Linked DNA regions of Homo sapiens. The protein of the gene in region 3 purifies or fractionates together with the protein of the main gene of each other region. This does not show direct contact. Each region holds a gene or a part of one and is shown on either strand. Other genes may lie near its edges.

The links.
Region 1: the proteins of NCEH1 (region 3) and SERBP1 purify together in Homo sapiens (affinity purification with mass spectrometry; 2 studies listed by BioGRID and IntAct, with this or other methods). This does not show direct contact.
Region 2: the proteins of NCEH1 (region 3) and POMT1 purify together in Homo sapiens (affinity purification with mass spectrometry; 2 studies listed by BioGRID and IntAct, with this or other methods). This does not show direct contact.

Annotation. Positions count from the first base shown.
Region 1 is NC_000001.11:67,420,377-67,427,402, forward strand, and holds part of SERBP1 (SERPINE1 mRNA-binding protein 1), read right to left. Parts: intron 5,910-7,026; coding exon 5,759-5,909; intron 4,848-5,758; coding exon 4,707-4,847; intron 4,602-4,706; coding exon 4,512-4,601; intron 3,947-4,511; coding exon of another isoform or gene 3,902-3,946; coding exon 3,824-3,901; intron 1-3,823. UniProt on the Homo sapiens protein: Ribosome-binding protein that promotes ribosome hibernation, a process during which ribosomes are stabilized in an inactive state and preserved from proteasomal degradation.
Region 2 is NC_000009.12:131,498,934-131,505,943, forward strand, and holds the start of POMT1 (protein O-mannosyl-transferase 1), read left to right. Parts: upstream 1-3,984; 5' UTR 3,985-4,140; exon of another isoform or gene 4,141-4,380; intron 4,381-5,255; 5' UTR 5,256-5,285; coding exon 5,286-5,407; exon of another isoform or gene 5,408-5,716; intron 5,717-7,010. UniProt on the Homo sapiens protein: Transfers mannosyl residues to the hydroxyl group of serine or threonine residues. Coexpression of both POMT1 and POMT2 is necessary for enzyme activity, expression of either POMT1 or POMT2 alone is insufficient.
Region 3 is NC_000003.12:172,701,060-172,708,085, forward strand, and holds part of NCEH1 (neutral cholesterol ester hydrolase 1), read right to left. Parts: intron 1-7,026.

The sequences.
Region 1 (7,026 bases), on a different chromosome or scaffold from region 3:
ATTAGAGACAAGTAAGGAATATGGAATTCATACTTATGAACTCTTAAATGATCATTTATCAGTAATACAATCTAGAACTGGCTTTACGAATACTAAAATACACATTTCTTAAAAACACTACCTTGTTTAAAAACTACCCTCTTATGTAAAATCCTCAGCCTATCTTCTCCTAAACCACATTTTTAATTTCCATAATTCCCACAATATGTAACTCTTAATAACATACAAGAAGGTAATCCTCTAGGATGTCTGTCAGCAACCAGGGTTCAAATTTTGGAATATAAAAGAACTGTTCCTCTATGCTTTGTTTCAGCAACTAGCACTTAGAGCAAATCAAAACAATAGCCGTGTTTCTACAAATCCTAAAATCCTTATACTCCAATTTTCAAACCAACCTGTATATGGAAAGGAGGCCATGGATTCACTACTAATAGAACTATCCACAAACACACACTGGTTTCATTATTTAATACTAAACCATTTATTTCCAAATATAATTCTCAGGTCTTAACTATAGAATATGATCCTTTCCTCTTTTTACAGAAACAAAGCACAGGCCTAAGGATCCATTATTTTAGTATAATCTCAATCTGCAATTGTCACCAAACAAGTCATTTGCTATTTGGGGAGCCCTGCTTCTTTCCAAAGATAGCAGGTGATTCAGTTAGCCTTAGAGCTCAAATATCTCCCTGGATGCTGCCCTTTACTGTTTGACAAATGCTATCTTAAAAGTTCCTCCAGTTACATCTATGCTGCAAAAAAAAAACAAAAAACTTCCTAGAGCAAGTTTATATTGAATTGACAGGATCTTGGGATCTTGGGTACTGAGTCCACCTAGTCATTTTACAGATGAGAAATCTAAGAATATAAAAAAAGTCCTGCTTACCCATATGTTATGACACAGCCAGGAATAGAACTTAGCATACCTTTTATCATATCATGGAGGCATGACACCTACCTTTCAGGAATTACTGCAAGGATTAAATAAAAACCAAACAGAAGCTCTGGAAGCTATATATAAGTTAGTTCATCAAAGTCAGCCAATGTTGTGTTTCTTAAATTTATACTTCCATATGCTATGCCCAGATTCTCCCCTAGTCTGGAATAAGATTACAGACAGTTCTAATGTGATGGATAATTATTTTCTTTAAACCAAACACCCTCAGTTTCGCTCCTGGGCACTGAGCTAAGGATTTGCTACCAATAGCCTATCAATACATTAGTACCTTTTGGTAAACAGTTATAATCTTTGCATATCACTGAGTGATTGAACATGGGCTCTATTAAACAGTTGTGGTTGGACACGGTGGCTCACACCTGTAATCCCAGCATTTTGGGAGGCCAAGGCGGGAGGATCACTTGAGGCCAGGAGTTCAAGACCAGCCTGGCCAACATGGTGTAACCATGTCTCTACTGAAAATACAAAAATTAGCCAGGCATGGTGGAGCATGCCTGTAGTCCCAGTACTCGGGAGGCTGAGGCAGGAGAATCGCTTGAACTTCAGAATGGCCAAAATCGCGCCACTGCACTCTAGCATGGGAGACAGGAGACTGTGTCTCAAAGAAACAAAAAAAAGTTGTGTTGACCACTATGAGAAACTTAACGTTGCATAGGGTTCATTTGTTAAGGCACCAATCACAACTTCATTGTTTATCATGCAAAATTATGATTCCATTATAGTTTTGCATAAATTTTTATTACCAAGTTCAAAACATCACCCAATACCATGTATTTTTATCTACTCCCTCCAATAGTATATCATTTTTCCTTATCCCAACAAATCCACGGAATATGATATTCCCATCATTAACAGTGCTCACCATAAGAGCAAATTCTTTCTGAAGAAAAGAAAAAGTTTAAGGTGCGGCAGCTCACGCCTGTAATCCCAGCACTTTGGGAGGCCAAGGAGGGCAGATCACCTGAGGTCAGAGTTCGAGATCAGCCTGACCAACATGGAGAAACCCATCTCTACTAAAAATACAAAATTAGCCGGGCGTGGTGGCACATGCCTGTAATCCCAGCTACTCAGGAGCTGAGGCAGGAGAATTGCTTGAACCCTGGAGGCAGAGGTTGCAGTGAGCCGAGATCACGCCATTGCACTCCAGCACAGGCAACAAGAGCAAAACTCCATCTCAAAAAAAAAAAAGAAAAAAGAAAAAGTTTAGAAAACATCTGCCCCTCCCACCCCCCAACTAACTTGAATATGCTTCTGGTTAGGAATCACTGTCCTAAATAACCTGTAATCCAAGACTTTAAACCACAATACTGTAACAAATAACTGGCAAAGTAAACATGATTTTAGGTCAGGCGTGGTGGCTCATGCCCGTAATCCCAGCACTTTGGAAGGCCAAGGCGGATGCATCACCTGAGGTCAGGAGTTCGAGACCAGCCTGGCCAACATGGTGAAATCCTGTCTCTACTAAAAATACAAAAAATTAGCTGGGCGTGGTGATGCATGCCTGTAATCCCAGTTACTCGGGAGGGTGAGGCAGGAGAATCGTTTGAACCCAGGGGGCGGAGGTTGCAGTGAGCCAAGATAGCGCCACTGTTACTTCAGCCTGGGCAACAGAGCGAGAATGTCTCCAAACAAAACAAAACAAAACAAAACAAAACAAAACAAAACAAAACACCATGTAATTTTAAAAGCTAGTGAAGGGCTGGGTGTGGTGGCTCACACCTGTAATCCCAGCACTTTGGGAGGCCAAGGAGGGTGGATCACCGAGGTCAGGAGTTCGAGACCAGCCTGGCCAGCTGGTCTAAAAAATATAAAAAATTAGCCAGGCATGGTGGCGGGTGCCTGTAATCCCAGCTACTCCAGAGGCTGAGGCAGGAGAATCGCGTGAACCCGGGAGGCGGAGGTTGCAGTGAGCCGACAGTGCCACTACACTCCAGCCTAAGCAACAAGAGTGAACTCCATCTCACACACACAAAAAAAAAAGTTAGTGAAGGGCTGGGCAAGGTGGCTCACGCCTGTAATCCCAGCACTTTGGGAGGCCAAGGTGGGTGGCTTGCCTGAGCTCAGGAGTTGAAGACCAGCCTGGGCAAAATGGTGAAACCCTGTCTCTACTAAAAATACAAAAATTAGCCGGGCCTGGTGGCAGGCACCTATAGTCCCAGCTACTTAGGAGGCTGACGTGGAAGGATCATTTGAGCCCAGGAGGCGGAGGGTGCAGTGAGCCAAGATCACTCCACTGCACTCCAGCCTCGGCAACAGAATGAAATCTTGTCTCAAAAAAAGAAAAAAAAAAAAAAAGATAGTGAATAACATACTCTGATCTTTGCTCTCTTCATACATTTAAAAACAGGCCAGTAATGCTATGTTCCAAATTCTACATTGGAAATAACTTCAAGATAGAACTAATGTTAAAATGGCCACATTTTCTAGTTTTAACTATCTCAAAGTAAAATTTGTACAGTTGTATGACAATGGTAAAATGACTAATCAAACAGAAATAACCACATTAAAATATTCTATTTTTCAAAGCGTTAGAGTCAAATATATACACATAAACCACTCTTTTAAGGGCTGGGTGCAGTGGCTCATGCCTGTAATCCCAGCACTTTGGGAGGCCAAGGCAGGAGGAACGCTTGAGCCCAGGAATTGGAGACCTGCCTAGGCAATATAGTGAGACCCTGTCTCTATTAAAAAAAGAAAAAAAAAGCATTCTTTCAAATACTCTTTGAGGGATGAGGGTACAGTAAGTCTCCCTTGTCAAAAACAAAAAGCCATCAAGTAACAGCATTAAATCTATGGGTTATCTTATTGGTAAAACTCCAGTGCTTTCAATTCTGGGTCATTACTATTACACGCAATACCACTTACTTATTTTCAGTGTCTGCCACTGGATGATGTTCTTCACCTTCAGGTGTTTCCTCAGTCACATTTGATTGATCCAAGTCACTGTAATTATAAGATATTTGTTTCTGAATGTATTTGGGGGACTCTCTAAGGAAAGAAAGAAAAAGAAAGGCATCTAGGTCCATTTACATGTAGCTGAAAAGTTCTTCATACAAAAATACCATAAGCTCTCACATTCTCTAACTCCTTTCTTACTAAATATACTCCCCAGAAGACGTCGAAAAGTAAACAATATAAACTAGTTAGTTCATATACTTCATACTTAAAAAGTAACAGAACAAGGCAGTTAATTATAAAATGAAGCTTTACTAGCTTATCAAATTTTGTAATGACAACAAAGTCAAAAGCTAGAATAGGAACTATTAAGGACACTAAGATAATCAGAATACCCAAATAACCTTATTGTGGGGTTTCAGGAAAAGCTACAAATACATATGGGGGGGAAAAAATGAGTAACAAATATATCGAAATATTAAAAAACCGGTCATTCAATATACTATAACCCAAACCCATCCCATAAGACATTATCTTGTAATATAGTAACTCTCAGAAGAGAGCATTCATTCTTATCTCAGAGACAAGTAAAATTTGACAGAGGTATGGATTAACCTCTAGTTAGGTATAGAATTTTTAAGAAAATCAGAATACCAACGTTAATTCGTCTTTGACAGTTCCCCAGTTGTGAGATCCGCTACCTCCACGTTTGTCCTCGTGCTTCAGGCCACTGTAATGTGAAAAAGAACTAACAAAACTGAGTTAACATAATACTCTTTAGTTCTAGAAATTCAAAGTTTGTTTATTAAATAGATTAAAATATTAAAGTAAAATAAAAACCAGTAAGACTTACGATCTATCACTTCCACTATGCCTATCAAATTCACGTTTGCCACGAGAATCAAATCCATCTCCTCGGCCCATTCCACGTCCACGGCCCCCTCGACCTCTTCCAAGACCACCACGACCTCGAATAGGTCGGTCAATAATCGGTCTATAATATAAACAAATAAATTATACTTCCATGGTTTCCAGAAGAAATGAGGAAAATTCATCCAAAAGATCAAAAATACAGAACATGTTTACTGGCTCAAAAACCAATAGTTAAATACATACACTTCAGAAAATTCAAAATAGTCTGTTTCTAAACACAAAGGAAACCAGAACAAGACAGCCTCCCAAAACAAGAAAACTATTTTAGCACTCTAAAGCATTACTACCAGTGCATATACTTTTCCACTGCTATTCATTGCACATATAATCCAGTCCATCACTATTTACCAATACACTTAAAAATTAAACACATCTAACTTGCATAAGTAATTTATTTGCTATAAACAATAAACCAACAGTATTTTCCTTCAACTAACAGTATTTTCCTTTTAACTCTGTATCTGGAGAGAGAAAGAAAAAGAAATTGGTTATCAATTCAACAAAGTGTTTCCATTACAAGAGACCTAAGTTTGAACTGTTACCCAAAGATCTAAAGCTTAACAATGCACACATACAGATGTTTCTGTGAAAAATTAATAGAAACAATTAGCCAGACTGCTACCTGGCAATTATGCCCAATTTATAGCTTAACATTAAAATGTGACTCTATAAAGTAACAAAATATGAAGACTTCTTTGGTTTACGCCTGTAATCCCAATATTGCAGGAGGACAGCTTGAGCACAGGAGCTCAAGACCAGCCAATGCAATATATATAGTGAGACCTCAGCTCTACAAAAAAAATTAGCAGTGTGGTGGCGTGACCTTGTAGTCCGAGCTACTCAAGAGGAGACTGAGATGAGAGGATCATTTGAGCCCAGGAAGCAGAGGCTGCAGTGAGCCAAGCTTGTACCACTGCACTCCAGCCTACATGTTAGACCAAGACCCTGGCTCAAAAACAAGAAACAACTTACCTATCAACTGAAAATTCGCCTCCTTCACCCTTTTCTTCAAGTGGCTTTTCGAATCTTCGTTCACGAGGTGGTCGCCTTTCTGGTCTTCTATCAATTATTTTCCCTTCACCCTGAAGTTGTTGATCAGGTCTTCTTCCAACTCGTCTTATTCCTAAAACGATAAGATAACCTGCATAAGCAAATTATTTTTGCAATCCAAAAACTTTAGGCCTGGACTGTCAAAAGCTGCTTCTCTTCCAATCCACTACCATTTCCTGTTGGAAAAAAGCAAACACTGGGCAACTCTAATGTGTAACAAAGTACCTTAGGAAAACTGCCATTTAAAGACAATAAACCTTCCAATCCATACCACCGACTAAATACATAAATAAATAAAATAAAAACAATAAACTTATTTTAAACTTCTATTTAAGTTTGCCAAGTTCTCCCCCTCAAAAGCATTTTCTATAACTGACTTGGAAATCATTTGGGCAACCATTATTCCCGTCACTTTCCAAGATAGTCTCTTAATAAAAACTTTTAAATTTAAAAAATTTTAGGCAAGCAATACATTTTGGCTTTTAAAATACCAAAGAAAATACCAGCAGCCATTCATAAATAACCAAGCAAATCAACACACTCACTAGATATGGCCCCTCACAAAAGTGAGGGCCGCACTATGTTATTCTATCTAATCTGAAAAAAAAATGCAATTAAGACTCATAATTCTATAAAATTACAAATCTGAAAGGAAAATATGGCATTTAGGATTATTAGAGAACATCACTTCAGTTTAAAACAGCCATTTAACCAGAAAAAGTGTCATCTTTTGGTCTTCTTAGCTACAGGCACACAAAAAGGGCCATCTTCCCCTATTAAAGTTTAAAATTTTATAGCATGTAAGTGTATATATGTTTGTACACACTCCCACATCCCTAAGTACTTCCAAGTTAGGAAACAGTTACTTATTATGCATGGAGAGAGTCCTCTAAAAAATTTGCCCTAACAACTATCTTTATTTTCAAAGAATCTTTAAAAACCAAATACACACACGTTAAGACCGCTTTTAAGCAACATGTAAGAAATAAGAAAACTTGTGACACTAAGTGATAGCTGAAGCATTTACTAATTTCCCCCTTTACTACTTTTTTCCTGTAATGTCTGAAACCCCACAAAGGCAACCAATTTAAATTATTGGTGCCCATAAGGATCAACAGATTGATGGTTAAATTAATGACTTTAAGATTGTTGGTATGCTCTAATTCCCAATTTCTGACAAAGTCATAAAG
Region 2 (7,010 bases), on a different chromosome or scaffold from region 3:
GGTTTGGTTTTCTTAACTGTTGGCTTCTCCCCACAGCGTTTTTTGTTTTTTTTTAAACATTCATATTGTTTTCAAACTTGGAATTCATAGACACTCTGGCTCTAGGTTCCTTAAGGGGGAAAACAAAAGATGACTTTATTTCACATTCAAGAAAATCAGTTCAGTTCCAAAGCTGTGGTCCTTCCAGCCACTTCTAGGGACACTGGGGAACCTTGTTAAACGTTGACATCAGTGCTCTCCAGCCGTGCTGTCACCCTCCTATCTTCTGGATCTGCCTTCGCGATGGTCAGTGACAGCTTCTGGAAGCTGAGCACACACAGGTGCACAGCCATGCTGTGGTCTGGCCTGCTACGGCAGCATGGCAGCTCTGGTGGAGCCTTCTCCCTTGCCATTTGGTTCCCCTGTGCCAAGTAGCTGCAGGCTGCCCCTCAAATCTTCATTTGTCCCTTTTCACTTCCTGCAGAACAAGCCTGGGTTAGAGGGTCTGCTGGAAATGGCCTTTGAAGACCAAGGATACCAGGATGTGTGCACTCTGTCGTGTTCTGTGATGAATGGGAAACGTAGGCTTCCAGAAAGCCAGCTCTCTTCTGAAATGTGACGGACCTAAGCAGGAAGTCATCCAGGACAGGAGTGGCTCAGTGTTGGGGATGGACGCTGTCGCCCAGCCATGCTCCACCAGGGCCACCAATGTGTAGTTGGCTGGTGGTCTTCGGGCATGTGAGACCTGCTCTTCACTGTTTCCACCCCACTTGGTGGCCTCCAGGATGGTAGTGGCACCCTCAGAGCCCCATCTTCAGCATGTTCTGAAGCCTCAGAGTGGAAATTCCTGCTAAGGCTCTGTGTGGACGCCTTTCTCCCGTGATCTAAAGGGGACACTGTACTCAAGCTTTTGACCTCATGCCTTGTGTAGTAAAAAAGGATTTGGGGGTTTTGTTTGGTTCCTGAGAGGGTTGTGTTTTGTTTTTGTTTCCTTTTGTTTATGTTTTGGCCTTTCCTCTTTGTCTTTCCATGTAGACCAGATATTTGAAAGGGCAGACGATGGCTAGAGGTGTAATGTGCAGCTTGTTTATACGGTATTTTGGGAAACTTACCTTGGATGGGAAATCGAATCGTGGATTCACCAGGCCGGTGCTGGCACACTCACCCTCGCCCTTTCCCTCCGGTTCAGTACCTATTGTTTCTCCTTTCAAATATGTGATTGTACTAGCTCTTTCCATATGAAAGAATTCTCCTTATTTAAATAAAAAAAGTTTAAAAAGATAAAGCTGAACGTGCTTTCTCAGGTTGTACATCCCTCGTTTCTTGGTCATTTGACCAGAGAGACCTACAGATCAAAGAATTCTAATTTTACAGAGTTCACACGGAAATTAGGAGTGGCACGGCTGAAATGCCTTAACAGAAGCTGTGTGGGTAGAGAAGGGATTGAAACCCGTGGCTAAGAAGCATCTTCCAAATGCGGCAGCATCAAGCACTCCACCCTCTTCCCACGGATGGCATCTGGTTGTGCACAGTGCCTGCCTGTGGCCCCGTCACTTGCCGTGAGAAACGAGCTGGTCAGAGGAGGTAAGCATTTGATGTGGCGTGTTGTGTTGTCACTTCTAGCGGTGCTTTTGCAGGAAGTGGAGGAGGATTATGCTGTGCTTTGGGGTGGGGAGGGAGCAAGCCAGGCCTGGGGTAGCGAAGGGTAAAAGGTAAGAATGGGCTGAGGCAGCAGTTCTCGGTTTTGCCATTGCCTCACTGACCTGGGGAAAGACGTTTCACCACCTGAGTCAGTCTCCTTAATCATAAAACACAGATTGTAATGGTATCGACCTCATGGCGTAGTGTGGATTCAAAGTCACCAGTAGCTTTTAGCTTAGTGCCTAGAACCAGCTAAGAAAACTTATAAATTACCCCCAAGAAATAAAACGCTGTTTCCATGAGGAACCCCAGTCCCTCAACTTCCTTCTAAGCCTTTTGACTATGGAAGAGAGTTGGGGACCTGGCCATGGGCATCTCAGCTTTAACTAGCCACACTCACTGCCCTGATTTACTGCTCCCTAGGGACAGGTGGCTCACAAAATCTCAAACGGAGACCAGCCCTGAAAGAGGCTAGTCCTAAGGTTGGGGGCTTGCAAGATGGAGGCTGTAAGTCCTGAGGCACCACCACTGTTAGCATGGCATGAACCAAAGCTTAACAGCCCAGCCCCACTCCCTCCTGGGGCCCAGGGAACCCTCCCTGCCCACTGTAAATACAGTTGCCTGCAGGCTCTGGCCACAAACCCAGGTGAGCCCCAGCTCCTTGCCTCTCTGTGGGATCTTGGGTGAGTCACATAACCCCTCAAGGGTAAGCCATAAAGAAGTAACCACGAAATTCTAACTGGTGTCATCTAATGCTATGTTGCCCAACATGGAAAAAAAGTCTTGCAGGCAGCCAAGAACCATAATGAAGGTTATTAAACCTGCAGTGTGCCCTTTTGGTCTGTATAGATTAACATACAAATAGACCAGGAGATCAAGAAGGAGCGAGGCTGAGAAGAGTGATCCATCAGCCTGGTTGCGTTGCTGTCAGTTACCCTGCTCTGGGTGCCGACTGTTCAGGGAAAACATGGGAAGGGGTGCATTGACCCAACCAAAAGTACCATGTCTGCTCCAAAGCAGGCCTTTGGGAAGGCTCTTGACCCTCAGCAGAGGGGGCTGGAGAGGCTGATGGATGAGGAGGAGCCCTGGGAATGGAGGAAGAAGCCTCCAGTCTTCTGCCACGGAGTTTAGGGGAGATGCCCCCACTGGAGCCTCTGATGGTCATGCAGCCCCCACTGATGTCCAGGTTTTTTTGGTTTTGTTTTTTGTTTTGAGACGGTCTCACTTTGTAGTCCAGGCTGGAGTGCAGTGGTGAGACCAAGGCTCACTGCAGCCTCGACCTCTCTGCCCCAAGTGATCTCCTGCCTCAGCCTCCCTTGTAGCTGGGACTGCAGGCAGACGCCAAGGGGCCCCGCTAATTTTTGTATTTTTTTGTAGAGACGGGGTCTCGCTGTGTTGCCCAGGCTCTCCTGGACTCAAGCGGGCTCACGGATCCTCCCACCTCGGCCACCCAAAGTGCTGGGGTTACAGGCGTGAGCCACCGCCCCCGGCCCTAGGTCCGTTTTAAATGCCCTTACCCTCAGCCACTTCACCGCTAGATGTATGTGCAAGCAGGATCGTGGCATCGATGTTTTTCGGCAAGGAAACTAGGAGCGCCCGCGGGCGTGGGGGCACGTGCCTGTGGTCTCAGCTGCTCTGGAGGCCGAGGAGGGAGGATCGCTTCGGGCAGAGAGGTCGAGGCTGCAGCAAGCCGTGGTCCTGCCACTGTACTCCAGCCTGGGCGACAGAGCGAGACCCCGTGTCTTAAAAAAAAAATTAAGGTCGGACGCAGTGGCTCACGCCTGTAATCCCAGCACTTTGGGAGGCCGAGGTGGGCGGATCACTTCAGGTCAGGAGTTCGAGACCAGCCTGGCCAACATGGTGAAACCCTGTCTCTACTACAAATACAAAAATTAACCGGGCGTGGTGGCGTGCGCCTTCAATCTCAGCTACTCGGGAGGCTGAGGCAGGAGAATCGCTTGAACCCGGGAAGCGGAGGTTGCGGTGAGCCGAGATCGCGCCATTGCACTCCAGCCTGGGCAACAAGAGCGAAACTCCGTCTCAAAAAAAAAGAAAAGAAAAGAAAAGAAAAAAACTAGGAGCAAACTGGCGCGCCCGGCAGAACGCCGTTGTGCAGACGCAGAATTAAGATCTTCACGCCAGATGGAGTGAAAAAGCAAGGAGCAGAAGATGGGTGGGAGCCCACTGCGCTTTTTAAAATCTGCACGTCTGCTTAGAGTACACAGAAATCCTGGCACACAAAACAGTAGCACCCGAGAGAGGGGAGGTCGCCGCGTTTCACACCTGCCTCTCCTCCGGGACCGGCGCCCTCGCCCGCTGCGCACGCGCGTCACCCTCTCCCAGTGCGCACGCGCGCTGCTGCCCGTCTGGCCCCGCAGGCTCGGTGAATCGAACGTTGAGCAGGGCGGTGGGTGGTGCGGAGTGCCGAGCGGCCTCACCCCCAACCGTCGGCCCAGTCGGACGGTTCCGAGGCGTTGCCGGGAGCCGGGCGCGGCTCTGTGTGGACTCGGAGAAACGCGGGTACATTTGGGGACACCGGGGACGAGAGCCCAGCCCGGACTTGGGGGAGTCCGTCAGTGCCGGACGCGGGTCCCTGGCTTGCGGACGGGCTGGGGCCGGGGGCGTCCCCGTCTTTCCGGAGCTGGGGGCGGGGTTCGGGCCCGGGCAGATGCGGCGTTCGGGCGGCCGAGCCCCGAAGTAAGAACTCCGTGGCGCGTGCAGCCCTAGGGAGGAAGGGCGTGCTGCGGGTGCAGTCTCAGGGTGAGGACGGAGCTGGGGCCGACGCAGCCTCGGGAGTTGGTGGACGGGACAGGTGCGGCCTGTGGGGAAGAAGGGCCGGCCAGGGAGATGCGGTCTGCAAGGGGAGAGGAGGCACTCCCAGGACAGATGGGACCTTTTGGGACGAAGGCGCTCAAGGCAGATGCAGCTCAGGGAGGGAAGGGCGCGTCCAGGGTAGATGGGGCCTGAGGAGACCAGCGGGGCGCCAACGGCCAGATGCGGCTTTGGTGTGAGACAGGGTGTCCCAGGCCTGATGCAGCCTCAAGAGAAGCGGAGCTCAAGGGAAGATGAAGCCTGGAGGAGAACGTGGGGGCGCAGGGTGCAAATGCACCCTCCAGGCGAGAAAGGGAGCACCCGGGGATGATGTGCCGCTGGGATAGAAGGCAGGGAGGCACTGGGGGCAGATGCATCCTTGAGGAGAGATGAGGAGGCCCCGAGGCTCGGCCAGGTTGGGGTCCCTGGGCTGTAAGCAGCTGAGATGGCACCCAGGAGCTGCCCAGGGTCAGGTAGCTGTGGCCGCACTGTGGGCTTCTGGTCGTCGGGGAGGGAGGGGAGAAACCCTGGCGTTCCTTAGCAGTGTTCTCGCGCCCAAGACGTGCTCGGCAGGTTTTGTGGAATGAGTTGTTGAAAGGAGTGAATGTCCAGTCCTGAGATCCCCTGAATTCCCACCCGAGTTCACTGCTAGTGCCCCTCACCCCACATGTCTACCTGAACCAAGGCTCCAGGAACTTCGGTCTTTCTCAGCAGCCCGGCTGTGCTGTGGTTCTCCTCGTGTGTCCGGGAGCCGGGTGGCTGGGGATCCCTTCTGTAGCCTCTCGTGAGCCCTCATGGACCACGGCTCCTCCCTTCTTTTCTAGGGCGTCTGCCTGAGCCCGCTTTTCTACAAGATGTGGGGATTTTTGAAGCGCCCTGTAGTGGTGACGGCTGACATCAACTTGAGCCTTGTGGCCCTGACTGGGATGGGGTTACTGAGCCGGCTGTGGCGACTCACCTACCCGCGGGCTGTGGTGTAAGCTAAATGACTCCATTCCCAGGGTGAATCTAGAATTGTACTTTGTGACAGGAGGCGCCCTTACTGAATAGCATAAATGGGAGAGTGAAATCCTGGCTTCTTGGTGATAGGTGTTTTTGGCAGTGAGAGGAGAGACCAGTCTGTCCCCAGGACAGCCCCAGCAGAGTACACCTTTTAGGTCTTGCCTTCTGAGTCTGTAACAGGTGAAATTTGGCCCATTAAAGGGGTGCAGTAGAGGAAAATCTGGTTGCCAGCCTTAAGTAACAGTTTTAAAGTCTGGACGGCAGAGGATTAATGGATTTGGAAGTAAGTCTTCACTGTTGAGAGCACTTTTTAGAATGTGTTTTTGTCATAATGGGAAGTGATTGCTGTTATTATTGAAGGGCTCTTTATTAACTGATTAATGTGTGTATGTGTGTGTGTGTGTGTGTGTGTGTGTGTGTGTGTGTTTTTGAGACGGAGTCTTGCTGTGTCGCCCAGGTTGGAGTGCAGTGGTGCCATCTCGGCTCACTGCAACCTCTGCCTCCTGGGTTCAAGCAATTCTCTGCCTCAGCCTCCCGAGTAGCTGAGATTACAGGTGCCCGCCACCACACCCAGCTAATTTTTGTATTTTTAGTAGAGACGGGATTTCACCATCTTGGCCAGGCTGGTATTGAACTCCTGACCTCATGATCCACCCACCTGGGTCTCCCAAAGTGTTAGGATTACAGGCGTGAGCCACTCCGCCCTGCTGCATGTTCTTTTTTGTTTAACTTTTTATTATGGAAAACGTCAAACATATACAAAAGCAGGGAGACAAGTATAATGAATGACCCCCCCACACACACCAGTATTTTCATTACCCAGCTTCACCTTATCAGTTCACAGCCAGGCCCCTCCCTGCAGTGGTTTTTACTTTGCAGCAAATCCTAGTATTCATAGATAATTCAGCGGTATATCTGTAAAAGATGAGGATTTTTTTTTTTTTTTTGGAGACATAGTTTTACTCTGTCGCCCAGGCTGTAGTGCAATGGTGCGATCGTGATTCTCCTACTTCAGCCTCCCGAGTACCTGGGATTACAGGCACCTGCCACCACGCCTGGCTCATTTTTGTATTTTTAGTAGAGAAGGGGTTTCACCATGTTGGCCAAGCTGATCTTGAACTCCTGACCTTGTGATCCACCTACCTTGGCCTCCCAAAGTGCTGGGATTACAGGCGTGAGCCACCGTGCCTGGCTGAGGATTCTTAAAAACAAAAATCACATAACCACAGTTGCATTATCATGCCTGAGAAATTGACAGCAGTTTCTTGGTTATCTTCACCTCTCCCTGATTGAAAACATGTTATTGCAGTTGATTCCCACGTTTTCCTTTCATACTTGCAGCCGTTTCATTGGGTCATCGCTAGCCACAGACATGTGCTGCTGGTGGGGGCGGGGGTGGGGGGGTTGGGTAGGTGGGTAAGCAGGATTAGCCTTGCGTCCCAGGAGGTCTTTCAGCAGGTTGGCTCATAGTATCCACCTAAATCAAACACAAGGGAGAGACAGAATCTGTATGGGCAGGCATGCTGAGTGCCAGCTGTGCTTGGTGAATTCCCCATGTCTCTGTGGGTGGGTGATGC
Region 3 (7,026 bases):
ACATTCATTTCAACTACTTCTGCCACTATCCATTTGCTGACTACTCCCAAATCCATATCACCAGCCCAGCTCTGTCTCCTGAGCTCTGGATCTGTATATGCAGCTGTTTATGATCAGCCATCCTTGGACTAGTCCACTGACACTTCAAAACAGGGTCCCAAACTCTATATCTTCACCCTCAGATCTGCTCTTGCTCCCAAATCAGGGTCATGGTCCCCATTCACCCAGCTATTCCAGAATCTGTCCCAGGAGTCATCTTTGACTCCTTCCTCTCCGATGCTCCATACTCTCCCCTCCAACAGCAACTCTGATCAGCTTTCCTCCAAATCAGTCCCACTTTGTTAGTTCATGCTCTCACCTGGATTAGTGCTTCCTAGATGGTCTTTTGCCTTTTTTTTTTTTTTTTTAAAGACGGAGTCTCCCTCTATTGCCCAGGCTGGAGTGCAGTGGTGCAATCTTGGCTGACTGCAACCTCCACCTCCCAGATTCAAGGGATTCTCCTGCCTCAGCCTCCCGAGTAGCTGGGACTACAGACGCGTGCCACCATGCCCAGCTAGTTTTTTTTTTTTTTTTTTTTTGTATTTTTAGTAGAGACTGGGTTTCACCATACCGGCCAGGCTGGTCTCAAACTCGTGACCTTGTGATCCGCCTGCCTCAGCCTCCCAAAGTGCTGGGATTACAGTTGTAAGCGACCACGCCTGGCCTACTTTTGCTTTCTTACATTCCAGTGTCTACACTGCCACTGAGAAGGACTATTCTAAAACACAGTTTTGAGCATGTGACTTCTCTGCTAGAAGACTGTCAGTTGCTCCTTTCTCCTCCACAGAGCTCTTCCTCACCTGACTGGTGCTTCCCTTCTGCCTCCCTCTCTGACCTTTGAACTTTAAGCTCCAGCCAGTCTAAACCACTTGTAGTTCCTCAGCTACACCATCCTCTCCCACAGAACTTTCACATACTGCTGCTTCTGGCTGGAATGCCCCTTTCACCCTTCTCTTCTCTGGTTTCTATTATAAGGAAATCTAGCACAAATCTAAACTCTTGAGTTCAGGAGTAACACAGGCTGGAATCGAATTCAGGCTCCACCTCGTATAAACGGTGTCATCTTAAGCAAGTCACTTTTCTTTGCATTTCGGTCTCCTCCTTTGTCACATAAAGAACACCTGCCTGATTGTATTACCATGGGCTAAACTAATTGAACACAAAGCACATAGCACAGTATCTGCCACAGAGTAAATGCTCACTATATGCTCAATAGATATTTTTACTATAGGCACTCAACCTTGACATCTCAGATTAGATACGTTTCCCCAGTGCCCAGGTCCACTTTAGATGTTCTTTCCAAGGCTCTTGCAGCAATCCACAGATGCCTCTATCATAATTCTCCTTCCATCATTCAAGTGCCCACCTTATCGCTGGCAGTTGGTTTATCATCCCTCACTTGACTGTAAGCTTCTCAAGATTAGGTATCTGCCTTACACATTTCTGTTTTGCCAGACCAGCTCCTTAATATTTAATATGTGATGACGTCCAGGGTTTTAATTTTATTAAACACTGAAAGAGAGCTTGTTAAAATTTCACAATATGACACACCTTAGATTAGGCAGGCGATATAGTCAGGTTTTTCACTTGAAAATTCAATTACAGGTAGGCACGGTGGCTTATGCCTGTGATCCCAGCACTTTGGGAAGCCAAAGCAAGAGGATCACTTGAGCCCAGGAGTTTGAGACCAGCCTGGGCAACATAGCAAGACTTTGTCTCTCCTAAAAAATAAAAAAAGAAAAATATAGCCAGGCATGGTGGCACGCGCCTGTAGTCCCAGCTACTCAAAAGGCTGAGGCAGGAGGATCCCTTGAGCCCAGAAGTTCAAGGTTGCAGTGAGCTGTGATCACACCACTGCATCCCTGCCTGGGTGACAGAGCAAGACCTTGTCTGTAAGAAAAAAATAAAAAGTAAAAAACGAAAATAAATTCAATTACATTTCTTCATTCTATATAAACATAAAATGAAAGAGAAGTGGTAGACAGTTCCCACATAATTTCATTTGGCAGCAAAAGTAAATATATGGTGCTCACTTCAGCAGCACATACACTAAAACCATAACAGTTCAGAGAGGACTAGCATGCCCCTGCAGAAGGATGACACACATTTGCAGTGTTACATATTTTCTTTAGAAAAGTAAATATGGCTGGGTGCAGTGGCTCACCCCTGTAATCCCAGCACTTTAGAAGGCCAAGGCGGGTGGATAACCTGAGGTCAGGAGTTTGAGACCAGCCTGGCCAACATGGTGAAACCCCATCCCTACAAAAATACAAAAAAAAATTAGCCGGGCATCATGGCGGGGGCCTGTAATCCCAGCTACTCGGGAGGCTGAGGCGGGAGAACTGCTTGAACCTGGGAGGCGGAGGTTGCAGTGAGCCGAGATCGCACCATTGCATTCCCGCCTGAGTGACAGAGCAAGACTCTGTCTCAAAAAAAAAAAAAAAAAAAGTAAATATATGCTATTTTAAAATGCTATTTTAAAAGAAGCAATTGTGCATAAAAAGAACATTTAAGAATGATTAACTGTACTTTCACACTTCACAGAAATGTCTCAGATCAAGCTCAAATTGCATGGTAGAAATAGGATGTCCCATTAAAATAATGAGGGTATTTCTATGCTCAGGGTTATATTTGTAGAAGTACCAGAAAAAATAAAAAGGAAACTATAAATTGGGCATTATCTTACACACCAGGTAGCTGAATCAATCTGACCTTAATGTTTCATAGGTACTATCTGCAGAGACCAACTCAGGTTGTTCACCTGTCAGAACTAACACTGATTAAATAATGCCCCTGACACTATTCTTAAAACCTTTTGCCTCCATATGTTTAAAGAAAAATCCTAGCAAATCAGCTAAAAATTGTGGTTAGTGAAGTTACTAATGTGCATGAAGAAATACGCATCATCATAATTTCTGGACAATCATTATTTACTGATGTTTTAAAGTTAAATTCACCTGACAATAGTAAATATTCCAGTTCAAAACTGTTATGAAAGAGATTATTAGCACGTTGAAGTTCTGCACAGTTTCCAGCTGAGCTGTCATTTAAACCACACCCACACAGCCCAAAAGCACATCATGCACAGAGAATTCAGGTGAGGTGACATTAAATCTCAACAAGTTTGGGGACATTTGGCAAGATAAAAATCCTTGATCAACTAGTCCAAAAGCACTGTCACCCATAAGAAACAGGGGGAACACTCAGCATAAATACCAATTTCAGCACTTCTTTTACATTGTGTCACTGAAAAGATTCATAGTGTAAGCAGTAGTAAGTTAGAAAATAATCAAGACAAGCCAGGCTCATGCTCCGAGCTCTCTTGGGACACCATTATTACCTTTAGCCACATTTTCCTTCCATCATTCAAGCACCTACCCTATCACTGGCAGTTGGTTTATCATCCTTCACTTGACTGTAAGCTTCTCAAGTTTAGGTTTCTGCCTTACACATTTCTGTTTTGCCAGACCAGCTCCTTGCCTTGGTGTTCATTTAATAAGTGATCACTTCCAGGGTTTTAATTTTATTAAACACTGAAAGAGAGCTTGTTAAAATTTCATAATATGACACATCTTAGATTAGGCAGGCAATATAGTCAGGTTTTTCACTTGAAAATTCAATTACAGGTAGGCACGTTGGCTTATGCCTGTGATCCCAGCACTTTGGGAAGCCAAAGCGGGAGGATCACTCTTCTAAACTATACATAGACTCTCCCTCCTATGAGACTTTGTAACTACACCTGTTCTACACCTATCAGCTTCCAGCTTTTTAATAGCTATATATTAACATGACTTCTCCATCCTACTAGACTGTGGTTTCTTCTAGGTCACTTTAGTGACTCTCCATAGCTTCACACAGGATTTCAATCCATGTTAAGTCTAGGTAACTGAGCACAAAGCATGGCACTATGATAGCTATATCAGGGGATCCAGAAAGTCTTTTTAAAAGAAATTCGATTTTTCTCATAAAGCAAATACTAAAATATATATTGATATGCATATGCACATCAGTTCCACTTTAGAAATAGAAAAATTATCCCTGGGGGGAAAAGTTACTTTTTGTTTTGAAAGATATTTTTTGTAGAGATGGGGAGGGTGGCATAGTTTCACTATGTTGCCCAGGCTGCTCTCGAACTCCCGACCTCAAGTGATCCTTGCACCTCAGCCTCTGTAAACTCAGCTGATAGCAATAACCTAAGCACATTCTGAGAATGACCCTGTATGGCAGACACACCTAAATGTGTGTTCTGAGTTAAGGAGTCCCCAAGTGCCCAACCCAGTGATTTGTTCTTTATCTATGATAAACATGTGAGCACCGCCCATCATGTAACATGGGATGTACAGGGGATTGAGGCCCTGAGTTTTGGGTTAAATGAAGGTTGCCAGGTGGAAGTCATTAGGGGGAAGACGTCAAGTGACAATGCTATGTAAACTACATGTTTGTAGGCAGTTGTGATTTTCCTGCCCTGCCTGCCACCACTGGACTGTAGAAAGACAGATATGTTGTCCAGCCTCCTGCCAATGCCCCTTTTCTATATATAAAGTGGTTCTTCTGTCCAGCCCACCACCACTGGACTCTTTCCCTTGTATGCAAGCCCCTAATAAAACCCTATTTTTGGCTGGGCACGGTGGCTCACGCCTGTAATCCCAACATTTTAAGAGGCCAAGGCTGGTGGATCACCTGAGGTCAGGAGTTCAAAACCAGCCTGACCAACATGGTGAAACTCTGTCCTTACTAAAAAATACAACAATTAGCCAGGCATGGTGGCGGGCACCTGTAATCCCAGCTACTCAGGAGGCTGAGGCACGAGAATCACTTGAAACCAGGAGGTGGAGGTTGCAGTGAGCTGAGATCACGCCACTGCACTCCAGCCTGGGTGACACAGTGAGACTCCATCTCAACAACAACAACCAAAAAAAAAAAAAAAAAAAAAACCCATGTCTTGTTTGCAGGCTCTGGGAATCTTCTTCAGCCTCTTCAACCTGGTGCCTTCACTACTGAGGTTAATGGGGGTTTGGCACAACAGTCTCCCAAAGTGCTGGGGTTACAGGCATGAGCTACCATGCCTGGATTAAAAAAAGCTTTAAAATAATTTATTACTACATGTTCATTGTAGAAAATCTAGAATACACCAATACGAAAACTGAAGATACAACTTTATGGCCCAGAAGAAAAAAATCATGTTTTAAATTATATCTTTCTGCTTTTTCTATACAAACATAGATACATGTTTTGATATATAAATAGTGTATGATCTATTTTGTAGCCTTTTCCTGCTTAACACATGGTACAAATCTTTTGCAAGTCATTAAACATTTTACAACCTAAATTTTTTTAACTGCCTAGTATTCCCAAATATGAATTTACCATTATTTAATCTTTTACTGTTCTTACATTTTTCTTTTTTTTTTTTTTTTTTTGAGACGAAGTCTCACTGTAGCCCAGGCTAGAGTGCAGTGGCACCATCTCGGCTCACTGAAACCTCCACCTCCCTGGTTCAAGCGATTCTTCTGCCTCAGCCTCCCAAGTAGCTGGAATTACAGGCGCGCACCACTGCACCCGGCTAATTTTTTGTATTTTTTAGTAGAGACGGGGTTTCACCATGTTGGCCAGGCTGGTCTTGAACTCCTGACCTCAGGTAACCCGCCCGCCTCGACCTCCCACAGTGCTAGGATTACAGGCATGAGCCACCACACCCGACCTTCATTCGTTTAAATGGTGCTGCAAATAAAAGAAAAAAAGATTGCTCGATTTTACTTCACGTTTATTATAAGTGGCAGTGCTTTTAGACAAGTTCAACAAGTTTTTGTTTTTTTTCTTTGTCTTACGGTGCTGATGAACAAGTTTTTTAATCCTGTAAAATGTTTCCATCTTTATAGCTAGAGGTTTGCCTATATCCATCATTACTTACCATAAATTCCATCTAGAGGGATTACGGGGTCAAAAAATAAACACACTTATAAGGCTTTGATGGATATTGCCAAACTGTTCTCCAAAAACGTGGTTCTAACATACATTTTCTCCAGCAGTGTACACTTAGTATTTTAACCTGCACTGAGATTACCATTTAAAAAAAAAAATCTTTGTCTGCATAGCATTTGGAAATCAGCCTTCAGGACTTCCCCAAACTCTCTTCTTTTGTTCCTCTAGTCTCCTGCTGCCTGATCATCTAAATTACACCTCTGCCCTTCTCAGACCTACTTTTGTTTGTGCTTTTCCACTGCTCAAGTCTTATGGTGGCTTTGCTATAACACAGAAATTTGCCTAGCTAGTATTTTATCCCCTTAGGGCCAAAGTGTCAACTAATCTGATAAACTAATCCATGCTAATGTAAAAGGGCTCATTTCCAGCAACACGTATGCAATATAACACGCAGTTTAAGGAAAATATATTGTCTACAACAGCAATGCCTTTTATCTTATAGAGCAGTGGTTCTCAAGTTTTGCTGCAATGAAGATCATCTGGGGAACTTTTCGTTTTTTATTTTTATTATTATTATTTTTTTGAGACGGAGTCTCACACTGTTGCCCAGGCTGGAGTGCAGTGGCCTGATCTCGGCCCACTGCAAGCTCCACCTCCCGGGTTCACGCCATTCTCCTGCCTCAGCCTCCCGAGTAGCCGGGACTACAGGAGCCTGCCACCACGCCCAGCTAATTTTTTTGTATTTTTAGTAGAGACGAGGTTTCACCGTATTAGCCAGGATGGTCTTGATCTCCTGACCTCGTGATCCGCCCGCCTCGGCCTCCCAAAGTGCTGGGATTACAGGCGTGAGCCACCGCGCCCGGCTGGAACTTTTCTTAAACACTGCTAAGAACGTTCATCTCCCAGAGATTCTAAGTAAGTTTGGTATGTGGTGTAACCTGGGCATCAAGTGTTTTGTTTTGGTTTGGTTTGTTTTAAACAGTTCTTAGGTGATTCTGACATAGCATCTGTGTTTGAGAGGAGTCAGAGAGATCCTAAGTAGCTGCTTCTTAAGGAATATGGGGA